Regions from separate parts of the Homo sapiens genome. Here region 2 is linked to region 1. The links come from fine-mapping of genetic effects on plasma protein levels. Region 1 holds a variant in brackets. A gene starts in the other region. All regions are shown on their forward strands. Region 1 holds the start of LOC124903302 (a long non-coding RNA gene). Region 2 holds the start of TSHB (thyroid stimulating hormone subunit beta).

The links. PIP is the posterior inclusion probability: the model's chance that the variant is causal. Protein levels are from antibody-based Olink assays in UK Biobank. Linkage for the fine-mapping came from a reference panel and not from the study's own genotypes, which makes the PIPs less certain.
Region 2: TSHB starts here. The variant in region 1 is fine-mapped to the plasma level of the TSHB protein (UK Biobank, PIP above 0.99).

Annotation. Positions count from the first base shown.
Region 1 is chr14:36,261,418-36,277,505 of GRCh38, forward strand. LOC124903302 (a long non-coding RNA gene) reads right to left here and starts at 11,865. Exons shown (of 2, transcript XR_007064116.1): 1 at 11,002-11,865; 2 at 7,651-7,894. It overlaps LOC107984003 (a long non-coding RNA gene), which reads left to right and starts at 11,866. Exons shown (of 3, transcript XR_429356.5): 1 at 11,866-11,976. RefSeq lists an enhancer at 11,044-11,543. The variant C/T (reference allele first, on the strand shown) is at 7,738.
Region 2 is chr1:115,014,412-115,030,499 of GRCh38, forward strand. TSHB (thyroid stimulating hormone subunit beta) reads left to right here and starts at 15,415. Exons shown (of 3, transcript NM_000549.5): 1 at 15,415-15,449.

The DNA of each region.
Region 1 (16,088 bases):
ATTTAGAAATGGTGTTGTAAGCCTTTGAAGTGTAAATGCTTCTTTTGACCACAGTAATTCTACTTTTAAGAACACACCTTAAGAAAATAATCTTGGACATATGCGAATTGTTTAGTTTGGGGTTGGTGACAGTGAAAATTTAGAAATAGTCTGTATGACTAATAGGATACTGATTAAATAAATGCTGTTTCCATAGTAAAATACCATTTAGCCATTAAGATAATGTCGTAGATATCTAAATGCATAGAAAATATGAAAAATATTGAAAAGTAGAAAGATTTCTGCAAACCAACACAGCATTATCTCAAGTTTGTTTTAAAATTTTAAAAGAATATATGTATATTTATGCATACAAAAAATATGTAGTACAATATTAATCATTATTATCTCTGGCTGGTGAGATTATGAGTTATTTCATCTTTCCATTGTATTTCTGACTTTCCATATTTTCTACAATGTACACTGATGCTTTTATAATCACAAATAAAAATGATTTACTTTAAAATGCAGCATCTGCACAGAAGTAGAAAGCTGCCAGCTAGGTCTTCAACCCAAGCCAGAGAGGAGATAGTCATGGTGAAACCCCGTATCTTCCCACTATCTTCTGCATGGTATTTCCATTAGGAGTGCTTTCAGCTATGAGTAACAGAAAGTCTTAGCAGTTGAATAGTCTGTAGAAATATTAATTTACCTATCACGTCTGGAAGTACGCAATTTCGGGATTGGCCTAGAGATTCAACTGTTATCACTTTCCATCTTTTTATTCTGCTGTCCTTAGAGTGTTGGATTTTCATCCACATGCGTGTCCCCACATGGTCTCAAAACGGCTGCACTCTCACTTTCACAATCAAGGCAACAGGAAGGAGGAGGGGGCTATACTGGCATGTCTGGAAAGCAAGCCTTTCTGGGGCAAAGGAGAGGGGGCTTGGGTATCACTATTGTATAAGCCAGTCGGAAATATTGGCCACAGGTGAGCAGGGCCTATTCTGTTGAGACGTATCATAGGCTGATTATTATTTTTCTCATTCCAGCTTCATTAGGCTTATAGTTAGGAAAAATTCTTCCACCATTCTGGCAGAGTTGTTAGTTTTAGTCGGTGTGAGGTTTTCTTTCTCTGTCTTTAGGGGAGTTGGGAGTGGATACATCAGAGGGTACCATGCAGAAGACACTTGAAACGGAGTTCCTTGATTTTCAAACATTCACATCCTTTATTTCATATAAGAATGTGAGGTAAGTATATATGGTTAATAAGTATGAAGCTATTCTGTGAATTTTATATATGATGAAATTGAGAACAAGAGACTATTAATAAATGATAAAGAAGACAGGTGACCACAAGTCAGGATATATTTGTGATGCCCAAAGATAACTAGCAATGAGCTAGGCACAGCACAGCAAGTTCTTAGTACTTGTTCCAGGTCAGACCTGTTACTATTGAGTTTGATTCTATTATCTAGTCTAAGAGTAAAAAAGCATTTAAGAAGTAAAAGACAGAGTATCCAGAACACATTTTGGGAATCCAAGAACTTTGATTTCACTGTGGATATAACCATCTCAACCCCTGCCTTTCTCTTGTGTGAATATTCCCTTAAGTAATTTAACCTTATTTCCCTATCTGTAAAATGGGAATTATTTTGTATACAGTTTGCCTTGCTAAGAGTTATTTGAATTAATTTGTTAATGTGCATAAAAGGCTTTTTGAGATGAAAAGTGCTAGGCATTGCTATTCGTTCTTCTAATGATGTATTTAGTGTATAATGGTTAAGCCTCTGAAACAAAACACTGATAAAAGGTTGAAATTCTCTAATAGGCATCACTTAGCTGATGATGTTGCTAGCTAAATGGCCATGAGTCTATTTTAGTATTCTCTCAAGTGAAATTAATTCAGAAAATAAAAATTAAATGAGTTTCACTTAGAAGTGTACTAAATTTAGTGATAGAGTTTACCTGACCAGCAGGTTTTGAATATTCAAGCAGCAAGATTTTACATTGTGTCAGTATCACCTTTGCTGTATTATTTAATTCATTCTAGCTTTATAATCCTTATTGCTTTCCCATTATTTCCTACCAATAACTATTATTGAATAAATTATTCTTCATATGTGTTGCTAGATTTTTCAACCAATGCTTCAACATTTATGAACTGCCTGTCTGCACAATATAAACCCCTTTATCATGCTTATCGTTACATATGGCAATGAAATTTTTCCCAGTAGTTTCGTATGTATATATTTCCTCCCTAACTGCAAGAACAGAAACTACCTCCTTTATGTTCTTTGTAAGTCAGAAACTTATTAATTTAACAAACATAATATAGCCTTCTATGTTTATATAAACAGACAAAAAATTAACATTACACCAATATCTTAATATCATTTTCAAAGCATTTTTAACCTATTCATTTGATCTTCACTAGGGTGTTATTCCTATTAAAAAATCTACATTGTGTATATGTATACAGTTTTTTCCTTGCCAAATGGAAAAAAATTCTAACCAATTATGATTTGTAAGGCCTTTAGAGAAACATGAAATATTTTCATAATGTTACTTTCATTTTTTTCCCATGCTTAAAATAACAAGATAAGAATATTTGGGAGAAAGCAGGCCAGAGAGATTAAAGGATATGCCTAAAGTTGTATGCTATTTGGTAAACAGAATGAGACCAGAACTTCAGGAAAGTCATTCTACATCAGTACAAATATTGGAGGTGGACATTCTTCTTCAGTGGAAAAGCAGCCTGGAGGAACCAAATAGTCTTTTAAAAAAACACTTTTTCAAGTGCAGGAAATCATCTTATCAGTGACCATGGAGCAGCCCCCAAGCCAAGCATGATCTCTTTATAAAAATAACCAAGGCCTACTCCCTACTCTTCAGTGGCTTTGTGACTTGTAGGTGAGACACACACTTACATAAGTTCCTGCAAATCAATGGAGACTGTCCTTTGGGAAATCTGATAAAACCACATTTCACTGTGCCTGTTCAGCCTGTGGGAGTGGGGATGGAAGCAGGAAGTGGGAAGAAGAAAACTTTTAAGGAGAGTAAATCATATCAATGAATAGAAATAAAAAGACACCAATAACTTTATGTAAAACTAATTAGCACTTATTTCATTAGACTGTAATTATCTGAGTGTCTGTCATTACCACCAAACACTGAGCTCCTCATTGCCATAAACCATTTTGTGGCAGACACTGCTATTTGGACACTGAAATTCATTCTCTCATTCCTGCTTAGCCCCACAAGCCTGACTTTTGGTTAGATAAGTGGCACCAGAATAAAGTCTATGTCTCCCAGCCTTTCTTGCAGCTAGGTATGTGACTGAGTTCTGACAAATAGGATATGAGCAGAATTGCTGAGAGTTCTGAGAAAAACTCCTTTAATCTTTCATCCTGCTGCCTGCGATACAGGTGGCAGCTGATGTTTCAACTGTCTTGGACTGTGAGATAGCCTTGAGGGTGAAAACCAAAATAGGAGAGAAAGGACTCTGGGGTTTTTTGATAATTCTTTGGAATCATCCCCTGAGCTGACTTCAGTCTTAATTTACACAAAAGAATAAACCTGAGTGTATTTAAGCCGCACAGTTAAGTTTCTGTCAATAGTGGCTGAAACAAAGCCTCACCAATATACATCACATCTGTGTATTCCCAACAGACAGTATGGTGCCTACATTGGTAGTTGCTCAAATTATTTGCACTTTAAATTTAATTATTTAAACCTTCCTTATTTTAAAAAGAATTAAAGACAGGATGCTAAATAAATGGCTGCAACAGTTGAAATTACACCAGTTACCAGGAAGAAGATAAAGACCAAATCAGGAAAACAAACACAAGAATGAAAAATCAGTCCTCAAGATATAAAATCATAGAAATTACACACAGAAATGTAAAGGCGACATTACTCTTTTGCTAAGGAATAAAATCTGGCAACATGATTTTAAAAGTATCTTAAGACAGAAAACAAAATAAAAAATTGTGAGTAAATAATTGGCTCTACATATGAGTTGCTAATACATTAAAGGACAAAAATCAAACTCAAAATGATAGTTGAGAATTGATCTATATCAAAGCGGGGAAGGGTTGAGTAATTTATAAAGGAAAGAGGTTTAATTGACTCACAATTCAGCATAGCTAGGGAGGCCTCAGGAAACTTACAGTCATGGCAGAAGGTGAAGAGGAAGCAAGGCACCTTTTTCACAAGGCAGCAGGAAGGAGAAATGCCCAGAAAAGGGGTGGAAAGCCCCTTATAAAACCATCAGATCTCGTGAGAACTCACTCACCATCATGAGAACAGCCTGGGGGAAATGGTCCCCCAGAATTCAATTACCTCCACCTGGTCTCTCCCTTGACATGTGGGAATTATGAGGATTATGGGGATTACAAGTCAAGATGAGATTTGGGTGGGGACACAAAGCCTCACTCAGGAAATCATGCGCAAAATAGGTGCTGGTAACTATGATTTATTCAACAATCACTGACAGCAATTCTTCTGTGCCGGGCACTGTTCTAAACACTTATAAATATTAACTCACTGAATCCACATTATAACCTTATGAGGTAGCTATTGTTGTTATGCCCATTTTTTAGATGGGAAACTGAAGCCCAGAGTGATCATATTACTTGCCCATGATCACATAGTAGGTGGGGGAGCAGGATTTTACCCAAAGACCAACGTTTTTAAGATGAAAAGTGTTGGGCATTATTATTAGTTCTTCTAAAGTATACTTTAGGGCATAGCATACTGATGGGCAGACCAGCTTCTTGGCTCCTTTAAATCTACTTCACATTTTGAAATTATGGAGAAAGAAAGAGAATCTGGAAAGGACCCAGAAATAGGTTAAAAGAAAAGTCATAGGATGAAAAAATGGATCCCTGAGTAAAACGCAAAGTTGCTGTGTTTTAGAGAAGAGAAGATACCAATGAATTTTAACCTCCAGTGAGAGTGTGGTCAGAGGAAGGACAGAACTGCTTGATTGTGATAGCTATAAAGGAAGGTGTTGGAATCCGTGATCCTGATGGTTCTTAAAATAAGGATAGATGATGTAAAATATATTTGCAGCAATGTGGATGGAACTGGAGTTCATTATGTGAAGTGAGTAAGCTAAGCACAGAAAGACAAAGATAGCACGTTCTCACTCGTGTGAAAGCAAATAGATGGAGTTCATGAAGATAGAGTAGACTGGTGGTTATCAAAGGCTGGGAAGGGCAGAGAGAAAAGGTATGAAGAGACATTGATTAATGGGTACAAATATACAGTTAGACTTAGTGTTTGATAGATCAGTAGGGTGACTCTAGTTTACAGTGATCTGGTGTACATTTCAAAATAGCTATTACGTTGGTGCAAAAGTAATCACACCACTTTGCCATTAGTTATAATGTGATATTAAAATCACATTACATTACTTTTAATGTAATGGCAAAATGGTGTGACTACTTTTGCACCAGTCTAATAGAGAATAATTTGAATGTTCCTAGGAGAAAAATAAATGTTTAAGGTAATGGATATTCCAGTTACCCTGATTTGATCTTTACATATCATATGAATGTGTCAAAATGTCATTCGTACCTTGAAAATACATATATCTATCATGTATCAATTTCCAAAGATTAATTTAGAAGATTTTATAAGATATATATATATCACTTCTTTCATATATATTCTTCTGAATTGATACTTATAATTCACATAAGTATATGTAAATTCTGAATGCCTTCTCTGCCTTTTTCTCCTTGTCTTCCTGGAGACACTTCCTTATCTTCCATGATTTTGCTCCGAGAATATTCCCTGTTGAGGCTCCCTAACCTTCCCTCTGTCTCTTCCCAAGTGCAGTTGACTCGGGGTGGGGGGGTGCTTAAACATTTTTAGCCATTTTAGACACTTGTATTTGGGCTATTTTCCCACTGTGTTTGCAATTAATTGTTCACAAGCACGCAGCCCTCAAACAGGCTATGTATGAGCTTCCTAGGGCAGAAACCACCCAACATAGTGATAGGCACATGCTTGGCACTGAAGAAAAACTTGCTGAATGAAAAAATGAATGAACAATTAACTAACCATATGCTATAGGAGAACTAGTGTAATCCAGAGGGGGCAATATCATTTTACAAATGCATCTTGAAATTTGACAATGATGACGTGAACACACAGATTCCACTGTCCAGGAACAATATCCAAAATAGAAACCGAAGCAAAGTGTTAAGAAAATAGACGAGGTGTTAACAATTATTTTTTTCTTTGGAAAAGTCACCTACTAACCTTGCAAGAGGCATCATTGTTGATTCATTGAGCTTTGCCCTCAAAAAGGTAAAGAAAACATCCCTAGCACAGTACTCAAAACAATAGGAAGACGAAAAGCAGTGGGAAATTTGGCCTTGCCCTTCACAGTTCCCTCGAGAATTTTTAGTTCTATTGTGAAGCCTTAGTACTCTGGCTATGACCTCTGTGTACTCCAAGATTGGGGCAGCTTTGCACATAGCTTATGGATTAAACCCTTGGGACCATCCTATAGCCTGAGCTTTAACTGGTGTCAAGAACATGCACCCAAACCTGCATATTCTTTTCTTTTGCTTTACAGGGGATGGGGACTCCTTTTTAAACCGAAGCTTTAAAAGAGAGTAGCTAGAATTTATGCTGAAGTGGAGTAACAGGCCTTTGGAGCTGAGCAGTGTCCTAATGCAGGTGAAAAGCATGTATTGATTACTTAAAGAAAGTTAAAATAAAAGCAATTTTTCTCCCCATTTCGGCACATTGCAGCTTTTGGCCTATCCACTCATAGCTAAAAAAGCATTCTTTCCTGATAATCAAGCTTCAGCTGTCTGAATTTCAGGCTGAGCCTCTCCTCCTGAGCTCTGCTGAAGAGCTGCTTTAATTAACCATTATACCACAGATGTTATTGATTTTTTTTTCAAATCTGGTTGAAACATCATTGTGCTGGATCATGGCCAAAACTAAGGCCTGAATTTGTGTGTGTGCGCTGCTTTTACTCCTTCTGCATACCTTATTAGTCTCCATGTCTGTTAAGTGCAATCCTTAGTATTAACTCAGAAAATATAGAATTGATTTTTAGCCTAGCAGCCGTGATCTAAGGGCTCCTAATTTGAAATCTGAAAACCTCAGTTGCTGAGGAAGTCTTTCTGCTGTTACTCTACACTTCCTTGAAGTAAGCTTTTTATTCTTTAATTTAAAAAAGAAATCTCCCTCTGCCTTTTACTTCTTTTTCTTTCACACACATACATTTGGAAGTTTCAAGGGAACATGAACATCTCTTTGCATTTTGAACGTGTTTGTCGTGAAAGGCCCCAGAGGCTTATTCTTCCCTGCCCTAAATGTTTGACCTGCAATGTAGATTGTATAAGATTTTGAAATTGAAGTGTCTTTAACACTTTCCATATTTTGAAGGGAAATTTGGAAGAACTTGAACAGCATTCACTTTGAGCAAATTGCAGGATATCAGAAACAACGGGGCATCTGCCTTCCTTTTACAATCCACCTTCCAGTGGGATGATAAACTCAAGGACCAAACAATCACAGTAGGTTCCTAAATTCTGATAAGGTTTCTGTGAGTTTAGTGATACATTCTTTAAATGTAATTTGAAGCTTTTAAAATACTGTAATGGCAGCTCTTGACCTTTAAAAATCACATGGAGCAAGAGGTGGTGAAAAATGTTTATTTACTCTGCATTAGTGGCTAACCTCCTGTTCCTTCCTAGAACCAGTAGTTCTTTTATACTCGGGAACTCA[C/T]GCATGTCACCCTCATTCTTCCAACACGAACCAGACAGGCCCACTTGAGCTGGAGAAACAATGGCCTGTAGCCGGTCCTATGCCTCAGTGCGAAACAACAATGCAGGCCTCTTGACGAATTCTGGCGTCGCGAGTGGAATCTTGCAGTTCAACATGTCTGCTGAACAGAAGTTGGAAAAAGAAAAGATCATCTTGTAAACAATTAATTAATGTTTGTCATGAATTATCATTTTTACTTCCTTCTCAAGAGGCTCAAAGGGAATAAAAAGGCATTTTTGCAGGTGGTGGCATTCAAACTAAGGGCAATCAAAGGTTTGAGAGCTGAGGCACAGCACTCTGAGTCTCTAAGGGTGAATGGTGCTAGGATTAGAGCACAGCAGGGGGTTGAGGGCTTCAGGTGTGAAGCTTAATGTTTGTGATCAGCAAAAAAAGTCTTGAATTTATCTAAACTGCTCTTCTGCTAACAGTACTTCTAGCACATAAATGTTCTGAAACTGACAAGTGTTCTCATTGCTCTTCTAATGCAAACATGATCTGCATTTGAAAGATGCATCCCTTTTGCCTAATTTAGAATGTGCATCACAAAGAGCGTTAGATGATGACCCCACAAAGAGATACACACACACACACACACACACACACACACACACACACACACTCCATGCTGCATGCACATACACACATGAAAACTGTCTCTTTCTGGCCTAGATCTTCTCTGAAGCTCCCAGGAAGGATCCTGCAAGATTGTTTTTCTCCAGATTCCTAAACCAGAGGTTGAGAACTAGGGGCCTCAATAGCCATCTGACCAGTGAATTCCTCTGATCTTCTACATGAATAATTCCTTTTAATTTGGTTTGGATAACTGTCTAGAATTTATCGTGCTGCATTTTCATTTGCAATCTTCCCTCTGCTTCTCCCAGCATTGAATTCTATCAGTAGCAAGATATTGAAGAGTATCCAATATATGTAAAAATTTTAAACACACACACCACCAATATTAAAATTTCCTAAGGAATTATGACTAATATTTGCAACCCCTAGAACCAATGATCTTGGCAGGCATTGTTGATAGAGGTTGCTAAGTCCATATAAATACATCTGATGGTTTAATGAATCCTCTCCGTAATCAATTGTTGAACTCTAATTAAATACTCATTTTCTTTCTATATCATCAATAGAGGTCACCTACTAGGAGAGCTCTAAAGGAAATACTAAGTTAAAGATTATGAGATATCACTTAGTGAAAATGAGTCATAGGCAAAACTTAGAAGGACCAATATGAATCTTAGCCTTGAGTTACTTTTTAATCTAACCTTCCCAAACTCTCTCCTATCCCGTAGTACCCACCCATTTTCTTTTCTGCATTCACATTTCCTATTCCCTGTAGTATTCACCTGAAATCATGCAATAAACACAGGTTATTGGGGCATGAAGCCTGGAGGCCCTGAGGGATCCAGGATGACAAAGGAAATGTAGGCACAAACTTGCCTCCTTTTGTCTTGACTCTTTTGGAGCTATTAAGTCAAGTGATGCTCTGAGGTTTATAGTCACCATCCTAGACCATGTCGTGGGATTTTCCCTTGAATCCCAGCATGTAGTACAAACATGTGGGCTTAAACTTAGGAAAAAAAAACCCAGAAGCTAGAGAAGAGTTTGGGCAAAATGGGCCAAACTAGAATATTATCAGCTCAGGGACATGAAAGGAGAGTTAAAAAGTTTAGAAGAGGAAGGGATCTGGGAGGAAAGAAGGTGAGCAGAACCCCTGAGATGGAATAGACAGAAAGGAACACCTTTCCTGAAATTCCTGGCAGCTCTAGTTTGTTAACATCTAAAAGTGGATAAAATGACTTACCAGAAAAAGTAAATTAGTTTCTCAAAACTACTAAAACTCTTCAAACCTAGAGATCTACTTATTTTCTGTGGTTCCCCATTTTTTGTAAAGATGTTAAAATCCTATTAAAAGCCAAATGCCAACTGCTGTAGAATTATGTAGAAAAAAACAGCGAAAAGAAAGTAGCAATGGATATGGTGAAACTGAAAAAGACTGGAGTTCATGACACTCTCTATACCCAAAGGTATACTCCAGATTTATTACAGGTACACTGAGGTTGTTTCTAAGTCCCAGGATTCTGGACCTTGGTTAGGGTGTGTGGCTCTGCCTGTTGGTCTACCCTATGTCCACATCGTCTCTCTGAACCTGCCTAACTTTCCCTTGCCCCCTTGCTGAACAATGCTCTGCATGTGGCCTTGTCTCTAGGACAGATCATATGACTGGGGGCAGGAGGTTCCCCTTTCTTCCCTGCCACATGCTGCTCTTCATTCTTACTTTGGATGGCTAAGATAGCATTCACTGGGGCTTGAGGGGAGGGGGCTGAAAAGGTCTCAAATGAGTGAAAAATTGAAAGCCTATGTGGCTTTTATTGGTATTGGATCAATTGGTCTAGATCTAACTGGAAAATGTTTTACTGTAGGGTGAATTTTACAAAATTATGAACATTTAGCTTTAAAATAAATGGCATTGATTAATCCAGTCATTACAAATATGTGCAAAGTTGGTATCAGCCTAACACACTCCCCCTACCAGGAAAGACACAGACTGAAACATAGATGGCAATGGTTTTCACATTCTTTAAGTGTAAACAATTAGATTCCCCCAACAAGTGTTTAGCTGCAAGTTGCATTAACCCAAAGCAACAAGGAAGAGTTTCAAGGAGTAAAAACAAAGAATAGTTTTAAGGAGTATTACTAGGAATATATCTTCCTTCTACAGCAGAAAAACTAGATGGGGGGAAGTCCTCCTATAGATTGCTAACGAATGCCTCCCCCAACCACCCAAGAAGGAGTTGTTGATGGAAAGAATTAAAAATTGTGACCACTTGAACGGCTCCACTGGTTGGATCTGTCTTTTCCAAAGAGACTGATCTTTCTAGGACTTCTGTCTGCGTGAGAGGTCCCACCCACCCTGCTACCATTTTAAGGAGACCTGTGAAAGCCTCCTTATTTGGCTTCCCTCCTACTCCCCCCGTTATGCCACCACTGTGTGCTACTGCTTGAAATTAATCAAGGGCCCCTTCTGGGAAAGGGATTCCTCTTTGAGAGAAACGGAACTGGACACTTCTCTGCCTTCCGCGTCCCCTCGCCCTGCCAGCCCCTGCTCCCCAAAGCTCCCCAGACAAAGCCCCAGGACTCCCGACTCCCGCGGAAGCTGCGAGGAGCCGCAGACCTGCCCTTGCCAGACAGCTGCTGTTTGAACCCAGTTCTGACCGTAAAATCAAAAGTGGGTCCGAGGGAAGCGGTAAACACTGTGCAATGAGCCTTTTGAAGGCAGCTGATGCCTCATTTGGGGTGACATGTTGTGGCTGATGAGTGTGGATGATGTGGGGTTTTCGATAAGTGCCTCATCAGTATCCTCATCATGCTCGTGTTGCTCCGCCGCGGCGTGTGCCCTGACTTGATTGTAATTGCCCGAATCTGCTCCCGCTGCTCAGGCGCGCACAGTAATATGCAATAAAACAGCAAGAAGTGAATGTTAACCATCTGAGTTCTGACACGGCGGCTCTGCAGTTCAAGATCTCCATTAAGACCGAAAAAAAAAAGAAAAGAAAAAAAGGAAAGAAGGAATCAGAAAATTCCCAGGGTCTCCTTCTGTGATCCAAGGGAAAGTCCAGAAATTAAGGAGCTGTTTGTTTAGTCTTCTTAGGTCCTCACAGGTAGAAACTAACAGGTAGTTTGCTAGTGTTTATTTATTTATAATTATTTTTTTTTTACATCCCAGGTGTCGCTGCCCTTGCTGCTTAACTCTAATAGCAGGCACCGCTGCAGCACTTGCCCAGGTGTGGAGGGTGGTCCAGGTCTTCAGGGGAGGCAGAGACCCTCCTCGCCCCAGTCTGTCAGTGTCCTCCGTAAGCCTTCGGTTGTTTCAGGTGCTAAATATGTAAGATCCAACTTTTCAGCGAACTCAAAGAGGCAGACACCTGAAGCACTGCTTCATCAAATCACTCACTGCTTACTGGCTTGGTTTTCAACTTCGCTAACATGCAGAGTGACCTAAATGGTCTCTTCCGTTCTTTCCACAATGACCACACACCTACGGAGGTCGCCTTCTATACTTTGAATTAAACCTGCTAGTGTCAGGGACATCGGGAGAACCAACTTCTGGAAACTGAGCTGGTCCCCAGGACTGTGTATTTAGTTTTCAACTGTAAGAAAAGGAAGTCTATCTGGGAAAGGAGACCTGAGGTGAGCGTGGAGTGATCACCTTTCCTTTCTCAGATGAAATATTTTAAATGAGGGTGCAGTTTTTTTTTTTTTAATAAGGTAATTTTCTTAAGTAAAGTTAGACTTTGTACAGCCTGGATTTCAATATAGATCTGATGATAAATATGCACACTTGAAAATCTAATTTCCACATTATAAACCTACTTTTCTTAGCCTTATCCTCTCCCCTTTTCTCCCTGGAATGAACCATAATTGCTTATCCTTTTGTAGGTAACAGCTACTATCCAACCCATTGTCTACTTAGGAGCATTTCTTAAAGCGTCTCAAAGAAAATACCATATTCTTTGCCGTTTCCTGTTAATTGAGTTCTTTCGGAGCCAGTGGCGTGGTAACTTCAGAATGAGATTTTAATTACATATGGAAACTTTACCATTGTTTTTCATTTTAAAGAAAGTAGGGTTTGCTCAAAAGTATTCTTTTTTTCTCTCCCCATTTCTGGTAGCAACGTCTTTTCCGAACTTTACAAATGCTGTTTGTTTGGACTCTGGGTTTTCTTCTTGCTTAAAAAAAAGCCTCACATCTAAAACTAATCAATTCGGCCTGCACTCCCACTTGGAAACTCCTATACAGATGGAGTCTCATTAACTGTTTGAATATCTGTATCAGTAACTGTTCAAGAGAAACAATTCCAGCCCACATGGATAATTAATGGAACCCTTCACAGGAAAATACCATTTTTTTTTTTAATTTTAGATGGAGTCTCACTCTATTGCCCAGGCTGGAGTACAATGGTGTGATCTCGGCTCACTGCAACCTTCTCCTGGGTTCAAGTGATTCTCCTGCCTCAGCCTCCCGAGTAGCTGGGATTACAGGCATGAGCCACCAGGCCCAGCTAATTTTTGTATTTTTAGTAGAGACAGGGTTTCACCATGTTGGCCAGGCTGGTCTCGACCTCCTGGCCCCAAGAGATCCTCCCACCTCAGCCTCCCAAAGTGCTGGGTTTACAGGCATGAGCCACTGCACCTGGCCAAGACCATCTCTTTTAGTAACTACCTGGTCTTGCTTAGCAAACCAGTCAGGTTAAACTTCCTCCTGCCTGGGCTAGTCCTTCCGAAAAGCAGCCAGAAAGCTCCTCTTCATATGTAGCGAGTGACTGTATGTAACTGCCTCCCTACAACTGCTGCAGGCCACCAAGTCTTGCCTAAATTCCTGGTAGGTTCAACTTGAATCTTGGGTGGACACAAGAAGAGAATGAAATCACCCTGTGGCTGCTACCCTCAATAATGCCATAGGCGGCAGCCTTTCTCTTCACCCCAAGGACATGCCTCTCTCTGATAAGGATGTCCTTATCCATCATGTGTTATAAGGCAAGATTTACTCCTGAGTGGTTGGATCAAATTCCCATGTGGGGTTATCCCATTCCAGCTTTAAAAATTGCCCCTTGCAAATTCAGGTAGAGAAAACCTTTCCATTTACTTCCTGCCTTAAGCAGGTGTGCAGTGTTAGCAGCACTATGCTTTCACACAGCTGTTGCTTTTTATCCAAGAAGCGGCTGCATTTCAGAGGTGGGTGCTTCCAGAATAGAGTTCTGGCTCTTCTAATTAACTTGGCATTCTATTGCAGTTCATAGAATACGTTCCCTTAACAGGTGACATACAAATGAAGGATTTTTAATATCTTAAAGACAGACACATTAAATGAATACAATTTTAAAAGAGATTTTAAAAAGCTAAAACAATAATAATTGTATCAGAAAAGCAAAAATGGATAAACAATTTCAGTGAAAGTGTGAGGACCTTAAATCAGTGTAAGTGTGCACTCTGGGAGGAAAGATGTTAAACCAGGAAATATTATTAAATGCAGCCAGGACCCTAGCAAATTTCTTCTCAGAAACTGATGTTTGTGTCTTCTTTTAAAAATCAAAAATTGATTTTAAAGAATGTACAAAGGAGTAATAAGTAATTTAAAAAATATATTGGTACACAGTAGGTTTTTAAGATTCTGTCCTTAACTAATGTCCATCCATTTTATATGCTAGCCTAGAGAATTAGTAAATTGAAAAGAAAGGTATACAGAACTTTGATACAGAATATCTATGTACTTTTATATTCATTTAGGTATTTGCATGTGCACACACAGTGTATATTCACATAAATTTGAAGTAAAGATTTGCAAAAGTTTGTTCCCAAAAATAGTTCTCTATTGTAATTAAGAAAGAATATGAAAGGAGGAAAATTAATTCTGAAATACCAAGCGCTTTCGTTAAAAGGCAAGTTTAATCAGTAAGAATGCATTTTGGCTTTTATTTTATTTTATTTTTATTTTTATTTTTTGCATAAGTCAGCTTTTAGATAGTGCGTCTTAGTGAACCTGATTGGATTCAGGCTCATAAGTTCCGACGGAATTCTGCACAAGTTGAAGGATGTGCAAAAACTGCAACATCAACAGTTCATTTCAAAAAGATTCCAGAAAAAAAAAAAAAAAAAAAAAACTCCAAACCAAAAAGCAACCCTGTGGTAACATTTCAGCATTAAAAGCTGGGGTTGCCATGGGCACCAGAGAGAAGCTCAGTATAAGGACTGCTGCCTGAGGTTACTGGTGGGGGATGGGCATGCCTAGGATGCACAATATGTGGGGCAGCATCATCAGCTGAATGGTAGTGTCTTCATTCTATGGGGCCCCAAAAAATGCCCCATACTATTGTACTATTGCTGGTCAGCGGAAGACAATGAGTCTATATGCTTGTGATCCTGTGAAGTGAGAAATAACCAAAGCCCTAGAATTTATAGAGAGATAAACTCAAGTTCCTTGGCCAGGCGATATGACCAGGGTTGGAGAGTCAGTTGGTGAGCCCATGTAGCTGCCCACGTCCTAGTCCTTTTCCTGTATGCTGTACCTTAGGGAAGTTATTGGCCACACATCCTTTGAGGATGCAGGTTAGCTTGGGTCAGAATGAACCATAAGATGCAAATACAAACCAAAATTTGGTGAGCTCAATTTGGTAAGCTCAAAACCAGCAAAAGAGTCAGGGAAGGACTCCTTCCATAGTCAAATCTCAAATTTGGGTTTATTCAGGTAAAGCTATAGGGTCGCCTCCATATCCCCAAATAAATCACCCCTCCTGATGGAGGTCCAACTTTCCCGGCAACCTGAACAGACTTTTGGGCCAGAAATAATATGTGTCCTTGGTCTAGAAACACAACCCCGGGGTTAATAAGAGCAATCCAACTTATGACTTCTTATATCCTTTTCCATGAACATTAAAGGTTCTATTCCATAATCATTAAAGAAGGAGCTTTAATGATTAATGGTAAATTGAGAGTAAAAAGTCTGCTAGTCTATTAGTGTCACAAGGAGACTGTCTTAAAGACAATGAAAATGGTGGCTCTTACTGGTACAGCAGAGAAAATGAGCAAATACCCAAGTGTCAATGAATAAGACATTCCCATCTTTCCTAAACTTGGGACAAAAGAGACAAGCAAAGATCTGAATTTTATTCCTTTCTTTTAGCCAATAAGGAGAATTTTAAAGAAAAAGAAATTCATGGAATAAACTAGAAGTGTGCCTCAAGACAGACAAAGGGAATGCAAAATTAAATTTTTGATGTGAAAGGGAAGGCACAATGAAACCTTCTGGATGAGATACCTTTGGAGAAAATTTCAATTTCACTGTTTCTTTTCTTTCAGGCTTGCTTTATTTTTTTCACAGATATGCTCTGTGGAAAGCCTGAAAGCCTTTTTATTATTTCTTATTTTCTTTTTCTTTTTACTATGTGGTACACATTCATTTTTTTTCACTTTCCTCCCAATGTTGAAGCAGTTCCCATTTTCTAGTTTTGTTTCTGACACCTAGCTGTGACCAACAATACCTTCCATTGAATCCTTTATTTCATCTGCTCAGTTTCTCTTATTTCCTCCATCTCTCCTTTTCCTTCACCTCCTCCTTGCCTCTTATTAACCCTCACAGTCCCCAGTATATTGTGATTCTCATAAAGATTTATTTCTTTCTTTTCCCAAGCCTAACCTACTTTTCTACATAAACTCAAGTTTATATCCATGATTCTATCTAACTAAATTCATAAACTCAGCCTTTTTAGCAAACAGGAAATTCATATTAATTTATTATATAGCATA
Region 2 (16,088 bases), not on the chromosome of region 1:
GTATATATGTGCCACATTTTCTTAATCCAGTCTATCGTTGTTGGACATTTAGGTTGGTTCCAAGTCTTTGCTATTGTGAATAGTGCCTCAATAAACATACGTGTGCATGTGTCTTTATAGCAGCATGATTTGTAATCTTTTGGGTATATACCTAGTGATGGGATGGCTGGGTCAAATGGTATTTCTAGTTTTAGATCCCTGAGGAATTGCCACACTGACTTCCACAATGGTTGAACTAGTTTACAGTCCCACCAACAGTGTAAAAGGGTTCCTATTTCTCTACATCCTCTACAGCACCTGTTGTTTCCTGACTTTTTAATGATGGCCATTCTAACTGGTGTGAGATGGTATCTCATTGTGGTTTTGATTTGCATTTCTCTGATGGCCAGTGAGGATGAGCATTTTTTCATGTGTTTTTTGGCTGCATAAATGTCTTCTTTTGAGAAGTGTCTGTTCATATCCTTCGCCCACTTGTTGATGGGGTTGTTTGTTTTTTTCTTGTAAATTTGTTTGAGTTCCTTGTAGATTCTGGATATTAGCCCTTTGTCAGATGAGTAGGTTGCAAAAATGTTCTCCCATTCTGTAGGTTGCCTGTTCACTCTGATGGTAGTTTCTTTTGCTGTGCAGAAGCTCTTTAGTTTAATTAGATCCCATTTGTCAATTTTGGCTTTTGTTGCCATTGCTTTTGGTGTTTAAGACATGAAGTCGTTGCCCATGCCTATGTCCTGAATGGTATTGCCTAGGTTTTCTTCTAGGGTTTTTATGGTTTTAGGTCTAACATTTAAGTCTTTAATCCATCTTGAATTAATTTTTGTATAAGGTATAAGGAAGGGATCCAGTTTCAGCTTTCTACATATGGCTAGCCAGTTTTCCCAGCACCATTTATTAAATAGGGAATCCTTTCCCCATTTCTTGTTTTTGTCAGGTTTGTCAAAGATCAGATAGTTGTAGATATGCAGTATTATTTCTGAGGGCTCTGTTCTGTTCCATTGGTCTATATCTCTGTTTTGGTACCAGTACCATGCTGTTTTGGTTATTGTAGCCTTGTAGTATAGTTTGAAGTCAGGTAGTGTGATGCCTCTGGCTTTGTTCTTTTGGCTTAGGATTGACTTGGCGATGCGGGCTCTTTTTTGGTTCCATATGAACTTTAAAGTAGTTTTTTCCAATTCTGTGAAGAAAGTCATTGGTAGCTTGATGGGGATGGCATTGAATCTATAATTTACCTTGGGCAGTCTGGCCATTTTCACGATATTGATTCTTCCTACCCATGAGCATGGAATGTTCTTCCATTTGTTTGTATCCTCTTTTATTTCATTGAGCAGTGGTTTGTAGTTCTCCTTGAAGAGGTCCTTCACATCCCTTGTAAGTTAGATTCCTAGGTATTTTATTCTCTTTGAAGCAATTGTGAATGGGAATTCACTCATGATTTGGCTCTCTGTTTGTCTGTTATTGGTGTATAAGAATGCTTGTGATTTTTGTACTTTGATTTTGTATCCTGAGACTATGCTGAAGTTGCTTATCAGCTTGAGGAGATTTTGGGCTGCGACAATGGGGTTCTCTAGATATACAATCATGTCATCTGCAGACAGGGACAATTTGACTTCCTCTTTTCCTAATTGAATACCCTTTATTTCCTTCTCCTGCCTAATTGCCCTGGCCAGAACTTCCAACACTATGTTGAATAGGAGTGGTGAGAGAGGTCATCCCTGTCTTGTGCCAGTTTTCAAAGGGAATGCTTCCAGTTTTTGCCCATTCAGTATGATATTGGCTGTGGGTTTGTCATAGATAGCTCTTATTATTTTGAGATACGTCCCATCAATATCTAATTTATTGAGAGTTTTTAGCATGAAGGGCTGTTGAATGTTGTCAAAGGCCTTTTCTGCATCTATTGAGATAATCATGTGGTTTTTCTCTTTGGTTCTGTTTATATGCTGGATTACATTTATTGATTCACATATATTGAACCAGCCTTGCATCCCAGGGATGAAGCCCACCTGATCATGGTGGATAAGCTTTTTGATGTGCTGCTGGATTCGGTTTGCCAGTATTTTATTGAGGATTTTTGCATCCATGTTCATCAAGGATATTAGTCTAAAACTCTCTTTTTTGGTTGTGTCTCTGCCCGGCTTTGGTATCAGGATGATGCTGGCCTCATAAAATGAGTTAGGGAGGATTCCCTCTTTTTCTATTGATTGGAATAGTTTCAGAAGGAATGGTACCAGTTCCTCCTTGTACCTCTGGTAGAATTCGGCTGTGAATCCATCTGGTCCTGGACTCTTTTTTGTTGGTAAGCTATTGATTATTGCCACAATTTCAGATCCTGTTATTGGTCTATTCAGAGATTCAACTTCTTCCTGGTTTAGTCTTGGGAGAGTGTATGTGTCGAGGAATTTATCCATTTCTTCTAGATTTTCTAGTTTATTTGCGTAGAGGTGTTTGTAGTATTCTCTGATGGTAGTTTGTATTTCTGTGGGATCGGTGGTGATATCCCCTTTATCATTTTTTGTTGTGTCTATTTGATTCTTCTCTCTTTTTTTCTTTATTAGTCTTGCTAGTGGTCTATCAATTTTGTTGATCCTTTCAAAAAACCAACTCCAGGATTCATTAATTTTTTGAAGGGTTTTTTGTGTCTCTATTTCCTTCAGTTCTGCTCTGATTTTAGTTATTTCTTGCCTTCTGCTAGCTTTTGAATGTGTTTGCTCTTGCTTTTCTAGTTCTTTTAATTGTGATGTTAGGGTGTCAATTTTGGATCTTTCCTGCTTTCTCTTGTGGGCGTTTAGTGGTATAACTTTCCCTCTACACACTGCTTTGAATGTGTCCCAGAGATTCTGGTATGTTGTGTCTTTGTTCTCACTGGTTTCAAAGAACATCTTTACTCCTGCCTTCATTTTGTTATGTACCCAGTAGTCATTCAGGAGCAGGCTGTTCAGTTTCCATGTAGTTGAGTGGTTTTGAGTGAGTTTCTTAATCCTGAGTTCTAGTTTGATTGCACTGTGGTCTGAGAGACAGTTTGTTATAATTTCTCTTCTTTTACATTTGCTGAGGAGAGCTTTACTTCCAACTATGTGGTCAATTTTGGAATAGGTGTGGTGTGGTGCTGAAAAGAATGTATATTCTGTTGATTTGGGGTGGAGAGTTCTGTAGATGTCTATTAGGTCTGCTTGGTGCAGAGCTGAGTTCAATTCCTGGGTATCCTTGTTAACTTTCTGTCTCATTGATCTGTGTAATGTTGACAGTGGGGTGTTAAAGTCTCCCATTATTAATGTGTGGGAGTCTAAGTCTCTTTGTAGGTCACTCAGGACTTGCTTTATGAATCTTGGTGCTCCTGTATTGGGTGCATATATATTTAGGATAGTTAGCTCTCCTTGTTGAATTGATACCTTTACCATTATGTAATGGCCTTCTTTGTCTCTTTTGATCTTTGTTGTTTTAAAGTCTGTTTTATCAGAGACTAGGATTGCAACCCCTGCCTTTTTTTGTTTTCCATTTGCTTGGTAGATCTTCTTCCATCCTTTTATTTTGAGCCTATGTGTGTCTCTGCATGTGAGATGGGTTTCCTGAATACAGCACACTGATGGGTCTTGACTCTTTATCCAATTTGCCAGTCTGTATCTTTTAATTGGAGCATTTAGTCCATTTACATTTAAAGTTAATATTGTTATGTGTGAATTTGATCCTGTCATTATGATGTTAGTTGGTTATTTTGCTCGTTAGTTGATGCAGTTTCTTCCTAGTCTCGATGGTCTTTACATTTTGGCATGATTTTGCAGTGGCTGGTACCGGTTGTGCCTTTCCATGTTTAGTGCTTCCTTCAGGAGCTCTTTTAGGGCAGGTCTGGTGGTGACAAAATCTCTCAGCATTTGCTTGTCTGTAAAGTATTTTATTTCTCCTTCACTTATGCAGCTTAATTTGGCTGGATATGAAATTCTGGGTTGAAAATTCTTTTCTTTAAGAATGTTGAATATTGGCCCCCACTCTCTTCTGGCTAGTAGAGTTTCTGCTGACACATCAGCTGTTAGTCTGATGGGCTTCCCTTTGTGGGTAACCCGACCTTTCTTTCTGGCTGCCCTTAACATTTTTTCCTTCATTTCAACTTTGGTGAATCTGACAATTATGTGTCTTGGAGTTGCTCTTCTCAAAGAGTATCTTTGTGGCGTTCTCTGTATTTCCTGAATCTGAATGTTGGCCTGCCTTGCAAGATTGGAGAAGTTCTCCCAGATAATATCCTGCAGAGTGTTTTCCAACTTGGTTCCATTCTCCCCGTCACTTTCAGGTATCCCAATCAGACATAGATTTGGTCTTTTCACATAATCCCATATTTCTTGGAGGCTCCATTCATTTGTTTTTATTCTTTTTTCTCTAAACTTCCCTTCTCGCTTCATTTCATTCATTTCATCTTCCATCACTGATACCCTTTCTTCCCGTGGATCGCATCAGCTCCTGAGGCTTCTGCATTCTTCACATAGTTCTCGAGCCTTGGCTTTCAGCTCCATCAGCTCCATCAGTTATACATTCGTCCAAATTTTTTTTCAAAGTTTTCAACTTCTTTGCCTTTGGTTTGAATTTCCTCCTGTAGCTCAGAGTAGTTTGATCGTCTGAAGCCTTCTTCTCTCAACTCATCAAAGTCACTCTCCATCCAGCTTTGTTCCATTGCTGGTGATGAGCTGTGTTCCTTTGGAGGAGGAGAGGCGCTCTGCTTTTTAGAGTTTCCAGTTTTTCTGCTCTGTTTTTTCCCCATCTTTGTGGTTTTATCTACTTTTGGTCTTTGATGATGGTGATGTACAGATGGGTTTTTGGTGTGGATGTCCTTTCTGTTTGTTAGTTTTCCTTCTAACAGACAGGACCCTCAGCTGCAGGTCTGTTAGAGTCTGCTAGAGGTCCACTCCAGACACTGTTTGCCTGGGTATCAGCAGTGGTGTCTGCAGAACCGCAGATTTTCGTGATCCGTGAATGCTGCAGTCTGATCATTCCTCTGGAAGTTTTGTCTCAGAGGAGTACCCAGCCATGTGAGTTGTCAGTCTGCCCCTACTGGGGGGTCCCTCCCAGTTAGGCTGCTCTGGGGTCAGGGGTCAGGGGTCAGGGACCCACTTGAGGAGGCAGTCTGCCTGTTCTCAGATCTCCAGCTGCGTGCTGGGAGAACCACTGCTCTCCTCAAAGCTGTCAGACAGGGACATTTAAGTCTGCAGAAGTTACTGCTGTCTTTTTGTTTGTCTGTGCCCTGCCTCCAGAGGTGGAGCCTACAGAGGCAGGCAGGCCTCCTTGAGCTGTGGTGGGCTCCACCCAGTTCGAGGTCCCCAGCTGCTTTGTTTACCTAAGCGAGCCTGGGCAATGGTGTGCGCCCCTCCCCCAGCCTTGCTGCCACCTTGCAGTTTGATCTCAGACTGCTGTTCTAGCAATCAGCGAGACTCCGTGGGCGTAGGACCCTCCGAGCCATGTGTGGGATATAATCTCCTGGTGTGCTGTTTCCTAAGCTGGTTGGAAAAGCACAGTATTTGGGTGGGAGTGGCCCGATTTTCCAGGTGCCGTCTGTCACCCCTTTCCTTGACTAGGAAAGGGAACTCCCTGATCCCTTGCACTTTCTGAGTGAGGCAATGCCTTGCCCTGCTTCAGCTGGCACATGGTGCACTGCACCCACTGTCCTGCGCCCACTGTCTGCCACTCCCTAGTGAGATGAACAGGGTACCTCAGATGGAAATGCAGAAATCACCCATCTTCTGCGTTGCTCACGCTGGGAGCTGTAGACTGGAGCTGTTCCTATTCAGCCATCTTGGCTCCTCCTGCCACATTTTCTTAATCCCATTTATCACTGTTGAACATTTAGGTTGGTTCCAAGTCTTTGTTATTGTGAATAGTGCTGCTATAAACATATGTGTTCATGTGTCTTTATAGCAGCATGATTTATAGGCATGGGCAAGGACTTCATGTCTAAAACACCAAAAGCAATGGCAACAAAAGCCAAAATTGACAATGGGATCTAATTAAACTCAAGAGCCTCTGCACAGCAAAAGAAACTACCATCAGAGTGAACAGGCAACCTACAGAATGGGAGAAAATTTTTGCAACCTACTCATCTGACAAAAGGCTAATGTCCTTTGCTTTTCTGTTGAATTCTTGTGTTCCTTTTTGAGTGTGAATCTCTAAACACTGTTTTGCTTCTTCCAAGTAGGTGAAGGATGCTAGAAAAGCATCTAATCTTCCATCATGGGGGAGAAAAGCCTAATTGTTTTTTAAATGTTTATTTCACTTGGGTTTTATTGAACTTCTAGGATTTGCGGTTTTATAGTCATCAAATTTGGAAATATTTTAGCCACATATTTTCAATTTTTTTTGGTCCCCACTTTAATTCTCACCTTTTATTCTGGACTCCAATTACATGTATTTTATTCTGCTTGATATTATTCTGCTAAGGCTTTTTAAAAAACTTTTTTTCCATGTGCTATTCATTTTAAGTAGTCTCTGAATTAGGTATTTGTTGCTGCTCAACAAATTATTCTAAAAATTAATAGGTTAAACCAACGATAAACATATATCAAATGATTTCTGTGGATCATGAATTTGGGTGTGACTTAGCTAATGGTTCTGGCTTGGAGTGTCTCTCATCAAGTTGCAGTCAAGATACTGTCTTAGGATTGCAGTCATTTGAAGACTTAATAAGGGCTGAAGATCTACTTCCAAGATGGCTCAGTTACATTGTTGATAAGTTGGTTCTGACTGTTGGCAGGAGGTCTCTGTCCTTTGCCATTTGGACTGCTCCACAGTTGCTGTCATTTGAGTGTTTTTGTGACTTGATGGCTGACTTCCCTCATAGCAAGTGATTCAACTGAGCAAGATGAGAGTGGAATGTCTTTTATGACAGCTTTAGGAATCACATAACTTCAATTCTGCTCCAATCTGAAGATCACACAGACATATCAAATCCTGGTATTACACAATGGGTGGGTATTACACAATGACACAAGTACGAGGAATTGAGGATCATTGGTACCATCTTGGAGGTTGGCTACCATTGTTACCATCTTGGAGGTTGGCTACCATGGTTTCTATTGCTGTGTCTTTAAGTGTACTGATATTTTCTTCTGAACAATCCACTCTGTTTTTCAGTTCATTCAGTGACTTTTCTTTTTTCATTTTGGATACTGTATTTTTAATCTCTAGAAGTTCCATTTGGGTCTTTTATTATACCTTTTATTTCTCTTTTCCTCATATTCATGTTTTCATTTAGATTCTTAAACGTATTAAAAATGTTTGTAAAAGCTCTATTAAGGTTCTTGTCTGTGAATTTCATTATTTCTGCCATTTTGAGCCTGTTTCTATTTATTGATTTTCCTTCTGGTAGGGGTCATATTTTTCATTTCTTTGCATGCCTAGTAATTTCTTATTGGATGCTCAACATTGTTAATTTTACATTTTAATAAGTGAGTTATATTTTGTTGTATTTTTTTAAAGGAATACTGAACTTTGTTCTGGCAGACATTCATGTTACTTGGTTCACTCAATCCTTTTGAAAGTTCCTTTTTATCTTTGTTCAGGAAGGTTCAGAGCAGCCTTAACTCTAGAGTTAATTTATCCTCACTTTTAAAGCATGACTTCTCTGAGGACTCTACCTAATTATGTATTATAATACTTCTCCACTTTGGCTTATGGAAGCACAAACTATTTTTAGACGTAAGTAAGCTCGAGGAATTGTTCAGCCTCCTGATTTTCAGTGATCTTTCCTTGGCTTCCTAGTTTCAACCCCATCATATACAAATTGGTCATCAGTTGAAGACTCAATGAAAACCCCTTTCAGATCTCCAGATTTTCTTTCTAGGCAGCTCCCTCCTCTTCATTTCTCTGTCCTAAAAATTCTAGGCATTTCAGACTCCCTGAACTTCTATACGTTTCTTCACAATTCCTTAAGAGTATAGTCTCTTTTTGGCTCCCCCTCTCTGTGCTGTAGCCTAGAAACTGCCTTCAGGTTTCTAGGACAATCGTAGGGCTTAATTTATTTGTTTCTTTTCTTTCAGTATCAGCCTTGTGGTGCCTATTATCCAAAGTTTATGAATAATTGGTTCATATATTTTGCCCTGTTTTCTAACTGTTTTTAGTAGAAGAGAAATTCTTATACCAGTGAATCCTTGATGGGTGAAAGCAGAAATATGTGGGGCTTTTGGGAGAAGCTGAATAGTCTGGGCACTGACCAATGAAAACAATGGTTAGTAGTGCTGGAGTAGAGACTGGGAGGCCTCCTCTTGTGCCAGGCAGGGAAGAGCTTTTCCCTACTCTTGACTTCCTTGAAATCAAAATGTGTTTACCTAAACACATTTTGGTCCTCTCCCTATTCCTTTACTGACTTTACCTATGGGGAGGTTCACCAAACCTGGTTCATATTTTGGGCTAGAATAGCTGGCTTAGTGCCTTTCTCCTGCCTTCTTTTGGGAGTAAGCTCAGAGGGCGATATGCTGGTATAAGAAGGAGAACGTAACTCAGTCCCTGGGATTCAGGGTTCTCACTGAGTTTGAAGTTCCTGTGGAACGTGTAATTGGAGATGTCTTGTAGGGGTTGGATACATGGGTCTGGGGCTCAAGGAGAGGTCTGGACTGTTATTTTATAGCTGTGTGAAGAAGATGACTGGTAAGAAGGAGTTTCTTGAGGGCAGTGTCTGGAATGAGGTGGAAATCCCATAGATTTGTTGAACAAATGAATTAATGAGTTCATGAATAGCCATTGTTCCCAATAGAAGATAATTCTAAACACTAGGAAAACTCATACATATGTAGTGAGACAAGTTAACTACATTATGGATTTGTTATTCTGTGACTACCACTGATTAATTTGCTAACTAAATTTTTGATTAATTTTTGCATATAATCATACTGCAAACTTCTTTAGAAATAAAAGGTGTGCTAAAAAAAGATAAGAAAAGTTTAAAATTTTTGGATGAGATTAATAGCATATTGTTCATTAGTTGCTGAGAAGTGGTTATACCTGTTATTGTGAATACAATTAATACTGCTCACATTATTCAGCCAGATAAATAATATCTAATTACCAAGAGGTTATATAAAGTAACATAAGTAGAAAGAAAGATATTATACTAAGGGATAGAGAAACTAGTTTTGACAGACAGGTAAGGAAAATTGGATACCAAGCTGACTTTATAACACTACAAATTTTATGACAGAAGATGTTAGCAATTTCTATTAACATTTATAGATGACCTTAATTTCAAAAAATGTTTTGAAATAGAAAAGAACTTGCATACATTCATGTAAATCTGGTATACAAGGGGCTTTAATCTGTTACCAAAAGAGAAAAGCAAATTGACATAATTTTTATACATATTAAATCAATTTTGTCTTCTCACTTGAGAGCTTTAAAATAATAAAATGCTCAATATGCAGATAGGGTGAACTCTGTTTGCTACCAATTATCTGTATTAAGAAAAAAAGCATGGAAAGGAATTAAGTAAACAAACAGGTTTTGTTTCATGTTGCAGGCCATTTTAATATGACTGTTACTGATAACTCAGGCTTAAGATGGCTAAACTGATTATTTTAAAAGTGTCTATATTGCCCAGGATTTTAGAATTTTATGGATATAGAGAATAGTAGGAGCTAGAAAAGTACCCAATCTTTGGGGTAAAGGATAATGTCAGTAAATCTGATTCATATTTTAATGCCACTTCTCTGTTTAGCTAAGTAAAGAGTACGAGTGTTTGTTTTTCTTTGAAAATGAGTTAAAATTTTAATGCAACAAAAACGATGTCAAGAAACTTGGATTTTAGCCTGACTTTGCCTATAACTATCTATAGAACATCAGAGCATTAAATAACCTCTCCATGGATGCAAAATGTCAGAATAGGATCTATGTTTCCATTTATTTATGTAATCAATATTTACTGAGTACCTAATATATAGCAGAGGCTGGTTTGGATTCTGAAGATATGGTGATGAGCAAGACAAACAAAGCTTCCATTTAAATTGCTTACAGTCTGGTTGGAAAGGGGGAGACAGAGAATAAGTATATAAACAAATAATATAGTATCAGAAAATGCTAAGTGCAATGAAGAATATATGAGATAACAGGATAAAAAGTGACAGTGGCAGTAGGCTGCATTAGACTGGGTGGTCAAGGAAGGGTTTTCTAAAGAAGTAATTTTTAAGCTGAGATGATAAGGAGAAAGCCATTCAAAGACTTGTTGAAAGGTTGCTCCATAATGAACAAATAGCAAATGTAAAAGCACTGTTCCAAGAACAAGTTTGGAATGTTCTAAGGGACATAATAAATAAAAGGTGGAGAGAGGTGGGTATGACATGAAGTTAGACAAGTAGGCACAGATGATTTCCACCTACCATATTTTTTATCAGTTTTATTGAGGTATAATTGACATACAATAAATTGCATATATTAGTTTCCTGGGACTGCCATAACAAAGTACCATAAACTGAGTGGTTTAAAACAACAGAGATTTATTTTCTTACAGTTTTAGAGGCCAGAAGTCCAAGATCAAAGTGTCTGCAGGACCATGTTCCCTCTGAAGCTGCTGAGCTAGGATGTATTCCAGGCCTCTATTGCAGCTTCTGGTAGTCCTTGGTTTGAAGCAACATAATTTCATTCTTCACATGGCATTCTCCTTGTTCATGTGTCTGTGTCCAAGTGTCCTCTTTTTGGAAGGGGATATATCCAATCATATTGGCTAGTGGCCTACTTTACTCCAGTATTATTTCATATTAATTAATTTCATTTGTAATGAACTTATTTCCAAATAAGTTCACATTCTGATATACTACAGGTTAGAACTTCAACATTTGAATTTTGGGGGTACATAATTCAACCCCTAACCCTGCATATATTTTGGTAGGTTTTAACATATGTATATCCTGTAAAACCATCATCACAATCAAGATAATGAACACATTTTTCACCTCCTAAATATTTCCTCTGCCCCTTGGAAATCCCTCTTTCTTCCCCTTCCTTGCCTTTCCTCATCCCCAGGCAATCATTAGTCTGCTGTCTTACACTAATTTGTATTTTCTGGTATTTTATATAAACTGAATTATATGGCATGTACTCTGTTTTGGTCTGTCTTAATAACATTAAGATTATAACATAATTATTGATGTTCATGTCACTGCTGTGTCAGTAGTTTATTCCTATTTACTGCTGACACATATTCTACTGCATATATATGACATATTTGTTTATCACCTGTGGATGGACATTCAGGTTGTTTCCAGTTTGGGGCTATTAAAAATAAAGATGCTATAAATGTTTATGTACAAGTTCATGTATGGATATATCTTATTATTTCTCTTAGATAAATACTGAGGAGTGGAATGATTGGGTCATATTGTAGGTGTATGTTTAACTTTTTGAGAGACTTATGGACTGACGAACTTGTACCATTTTATGTTTCCATCAAACATTGTATACAAATTTCGATTGCTCCACATCCTTGCTAACCCTTGGTATTTCCAATTTTTAAATTTTAGGCAGCCCAAGACGTGTGTAGTGCTGTCATTGAGGTCTTAATTTCTTATCTCTGAGACTAATGATGAAAATTTTTCATCTGTTTACTTCCCATCTACATAATTTTGTGAAATGTCTATTCAAACATTTGCTTATTTAAAAAATTGGATAATTTTTTTCTTATAATTGAGTATAGCAGGTTCTTCATATATTCTGTATACAAGTTCTTTATCTTATATATAATTTGCAAGTTTCTTTTCTTTCAGTTTGTGGTATGTCGTTCTTTTAACAATGCCTTTCGAAGAGAGAAGTTCTTAATTCTGATGGAGTCCAATTTATCATTTTTTGAAAATGGATCATGCTGTTGGTGTTATATCTAAGAAAGTTTTGCCTAATTCAAGTTTTGCCTAACAAAAGTTTTTTTTTTTTTTTTTGGGACGGAGTCTCGCTCTGTCGCCCAGGCTGGAGTGCAGTGGCGGGATCTCAGCTCACTGCAAGCTCCGCCTCCCGGGTTCACGCCATTCTCCTGCCTCAGCCTCCCAAGTAGCTGAGACTACAGGCGCCCGCCACTACGCCCAGCTAATTTTTTGTATTTTTAGTAGAGACGGGGTTTCACCGTTTTAGCCGGGATGGTCTCGATCTCCTGACCTCGTGATCCGCCCGCCTCGGCCTCCCAAAGTGCTGGGATTACAGGCGTGAGCCACCTCGCCCGGCCCTAACAAAAGTTTTATTCCATGCTTTCTTCTAGAAATGTTAGAATTTTAGTTTTTATATTTCATGTTAATATTTGTATATAATGCAAGATATGTATTGAAGTTATTTATTTATTTTTAAAAAGTATTTATTTTTATATATGGATAACGAATTGTTCCAGCACCATTTGTTGAAAATACTATTTATTTTCTACTCAATTTTGTTTTCACCTTTCTTGAAAATAATTTGACCACATGTGTACAGGTTTATTACTGGACCATATTTTGTTCCAATGATCTGTCTTAACACCACTTTCTTAATTACCATAGGTTTACCATCTTGAAATCAGCGATTCAGTAAGATTTTCAACATAGATGGTCATGTCGTATGTGAATAAAATTTTACTCCTTCCTTTCCCATCTGAATGTCTTTTTTCCTTTGGCTTATTGCGTTAACATTGCACTTACAGCACAGTGTTTAATAGAAGATGCAAAAGCAGACGTTTTTGCCTTTTTCCTGATCTTAGAGTAAACGTACTCTGTCTTTCAATATTAAGCATGATATTAATCATAAATTTTCCATGATGCCTTTTATTAAGTTAGGAGGTTTTCTTCTATTCCAAGTTTGCCGAAAATTTTTTCAGGAATCTATGTTGGATTTTGTAAAATGCTTTTTGTGTATGTGGTTGTGTGTGTGTGTGTGTTTCCATTGGGATCATCATAAGGCTTTTAGTTTTTAGCCCGTTAGTAGGGTGAATTTTCTTAATTGAATGCAAACTAAACTCGCATTCCTGAAATAAATTCCACTTCGACCATGATGTATTATTCTTTTTACATATTGTTTATTTTGTTTTGTTAAATTTTGTGAAGAATTTTTGCATCTATGTTCATTTCATGAGGGTTATTAGTTTGTGGTTTTCTTTTTTGATAATGTCTTTCTTGTGAACTCTAGCTGCCTTGGGGATCCATGGACTCCCAGGTCTATCTCTTCAATTTGGTGATGCTTCTGGCCTCTGCCTTGGTAACTTTTCATGCACTATGGCACAGAAACTTTCTCCAGGCAGTCTCTCCCTGTTTGTTTCCCATCTCTCTCGGATCATGTACTTTTGTTACCTGATGTCCAATATGTATAAAGACATTATTTTATATATTTTGTACTGTTTTATAATTATTTTAGGTGAGAAAGTAAACCTGGATCAGAAGCACAAATTCAACATGCCTGGATTCTTTTAACAGTATGAGATCATATACACTAAGGCCTCTTTAGCAAGAAAATCACTACCCAAATGCATGGTATTTATTATAGTTCTTTTAGTAACAGGCCAAGTGTCTATCAGTTGTCCATTACATATGTACACACACACATACATACATATATCTCCCAGGGATAGGTATATAAATCCGCTAGAAAATGAGTTCCTGAATCAATGCTTTATACAAAGGAGGCACTAATTCCATTAGAAACACACATCCAACATTCTTCCATTTATCATATTCCTGTGTTAGCATCTTGTCTGAAATTAGGTTGGCACACTCATTTCCAGTTTCCCTGTTTTCAAAATTATCTTACTACATAGTAGCTCACATTCCCAAGACCTTGGACCCTGGCATGGCCATTTCTAGGTATATATCTGTTAAACTAAATGTGGCCTGAGGATACCTCTGTTTTGTGAGTTCCTACATAATGAACTGCAACCTAACTTAGTATGTACACTACCTGAAAGCCTAACTTAGGAGTATACTTTTGTAACAGACAGCTGAATTTCAGCTCATCACAGCAGCTGAGCTTCAGTCAATTACAGGCAGCCAGCTGATCAGACTTTGTCCAAGTAAGGCAAGTGCTGATGTATAATGAAATCAAGCTGTTTCGATATCTCATTTCTACTTTCTGTCCATAAATGCTGTCTGCCCACATTGAGGAGCAGAGCTCTGTGAATCTCTTCTGATTCTGAGGGCTGCCTGATTTGACAATCATTCTTTTTTCAATTAAACTGACAAAAACAAGCAATGGGGAAAAGATTCCCTGTACAATAAATGGTGCTGAGATAACTGGCTAGCCATATGCAGAAGACTGAAACTGGATCCCTTCCCTACACCATATAGAAAAATCAACTCAACGTGGATTAAAGACTTACATGTAAAACCTAAAACTGTAAAAACCCTCGAGGATAACCTAGGAAATATCATTCCAGATGTAGGACCGGGCAGAGATTTCATGACGAAGACGACAAATGGAGTTTCAACAAGAACAAAAGTTGACAAATGGGACCTTTAACTAAAGGGCTTCTGCATTATGGCCCAGAAACTTTCTCCAGGCAGTTTCTCCCTGTTTGTTTCCCATCTCTCTAGGATCGTGTACTTTTGTTACCTGATGTAACAGGAAAAGAAACTATCAACATAATAAACACACAACCTACAGAATGGGAGAAAATATTTGCAAACTATGCATCTGACAAAGGTCTAATATCCAGAATCTATAAGGAGCTTAAACAATTTATAAGCAAAAACTGAAGAACCCCGTTAAAAAGTGGGCAAAAGACATAAACAGACACTTTTCAAAAGAAGATATATACATGGCCAATAAGCATATGAAAAAATGCTCACACCACAAATCATTAGAGAAGTGATATTACCTTTTAATAGAAACTGAAGAGGTCAAGCATGCCAATGTCATATGGCAAGTAAATGGCAGGGCCAAAATTTTATCTCAGGTCAGCTTGACATCCTGTCAGATGTGGCCATGTTCCTCAGAGTCATTCTTTCACATGTGTAAATTTTACTTAATATCTTAAAATCCCCCAAAAATATTTTGAACTACACATTTTGTTCTAAACAAAATTTTTAGATGAGGAATAATTTTATATATCTTTACATGAACATTTAGGTAAAACTTGAAGCCCTCAAGCCCCAAATAAATTTTTATTCCCAAGACTTATTTAGATGATGTTAGAGTGTTTTTTGAATTTGGTTTTTCCCATTCTGTATCTATCTTTTATTAATATTAATAAATAAATATTAATAAAGAATATATTTAAAAGGTAATTTTATTTTGAAACAGAAGAGAGGAAAATGCATGCTTTAATAATGTCAGTTTCCAGGTAAAGATATTGTGAGCTTGTTTGTCTAAATACATTTTATTTGGAATTCAGTATGAATTTTCAATAGATGCTTTTCAGATAAGAAAGCAGTAAATCAAATGCAATTGTATAAACAAGAAGATCAGAGGGATTATCCTGAAGGGTATAAAATGAACCAAGAGCTTTTAGTTTGGGTCACCACAGCATCTGCTCACCAATGCAAAGTAAGGTAGGTGTCTATAGTGAGAAGGCTCTGTGAAATGATATGTTCTTAAGCTATTTTTTTTCACTTTCACCATTTTATCATTTTTTAGAAAGTGGCAAATGCTGAAAGATAATTTGCTTCAACAGGCTGTAATATCTTAAATTACTGCTCCAAATTGTTTAGTAGTAGATGGAGGTGAGAGAACTACCTACATAAGGATAAGGAAAAAATTCATTGACTTAAAGAAAGAGAAACAACTGATTAGTTCCCTAATGAAGGATATTTGATATTCATGGCTTTCTTCTGTTTTCATTTTGATTTAAATATTGTTGTCCATTTAATGATGTGTGTATTAAATCCTCTCAATTACTGTACTAATGGCCATCTTTTATGAAAATGTACTTCCGGGAATGTTAGAGCAAATTCATTTTTGAGTACCTGCTGGGGTAATGTACTCTGTATTATAAGTTCTTTTTAGTTATTTAATAGCTAAACCTCCTTTGATAGTGTTCAACACACACACAGCTGCTGTATAGTACATTTTGCTTTCTAGAAAAATATACTGCTTTAGTGAAGTTCCAGGATTATTCATAGGATGGGCAATTAGTTCTTTTCATAGTAAGGGATTTGGAGAGTAAAAATTAATGAAGGAAATTAGCAGAG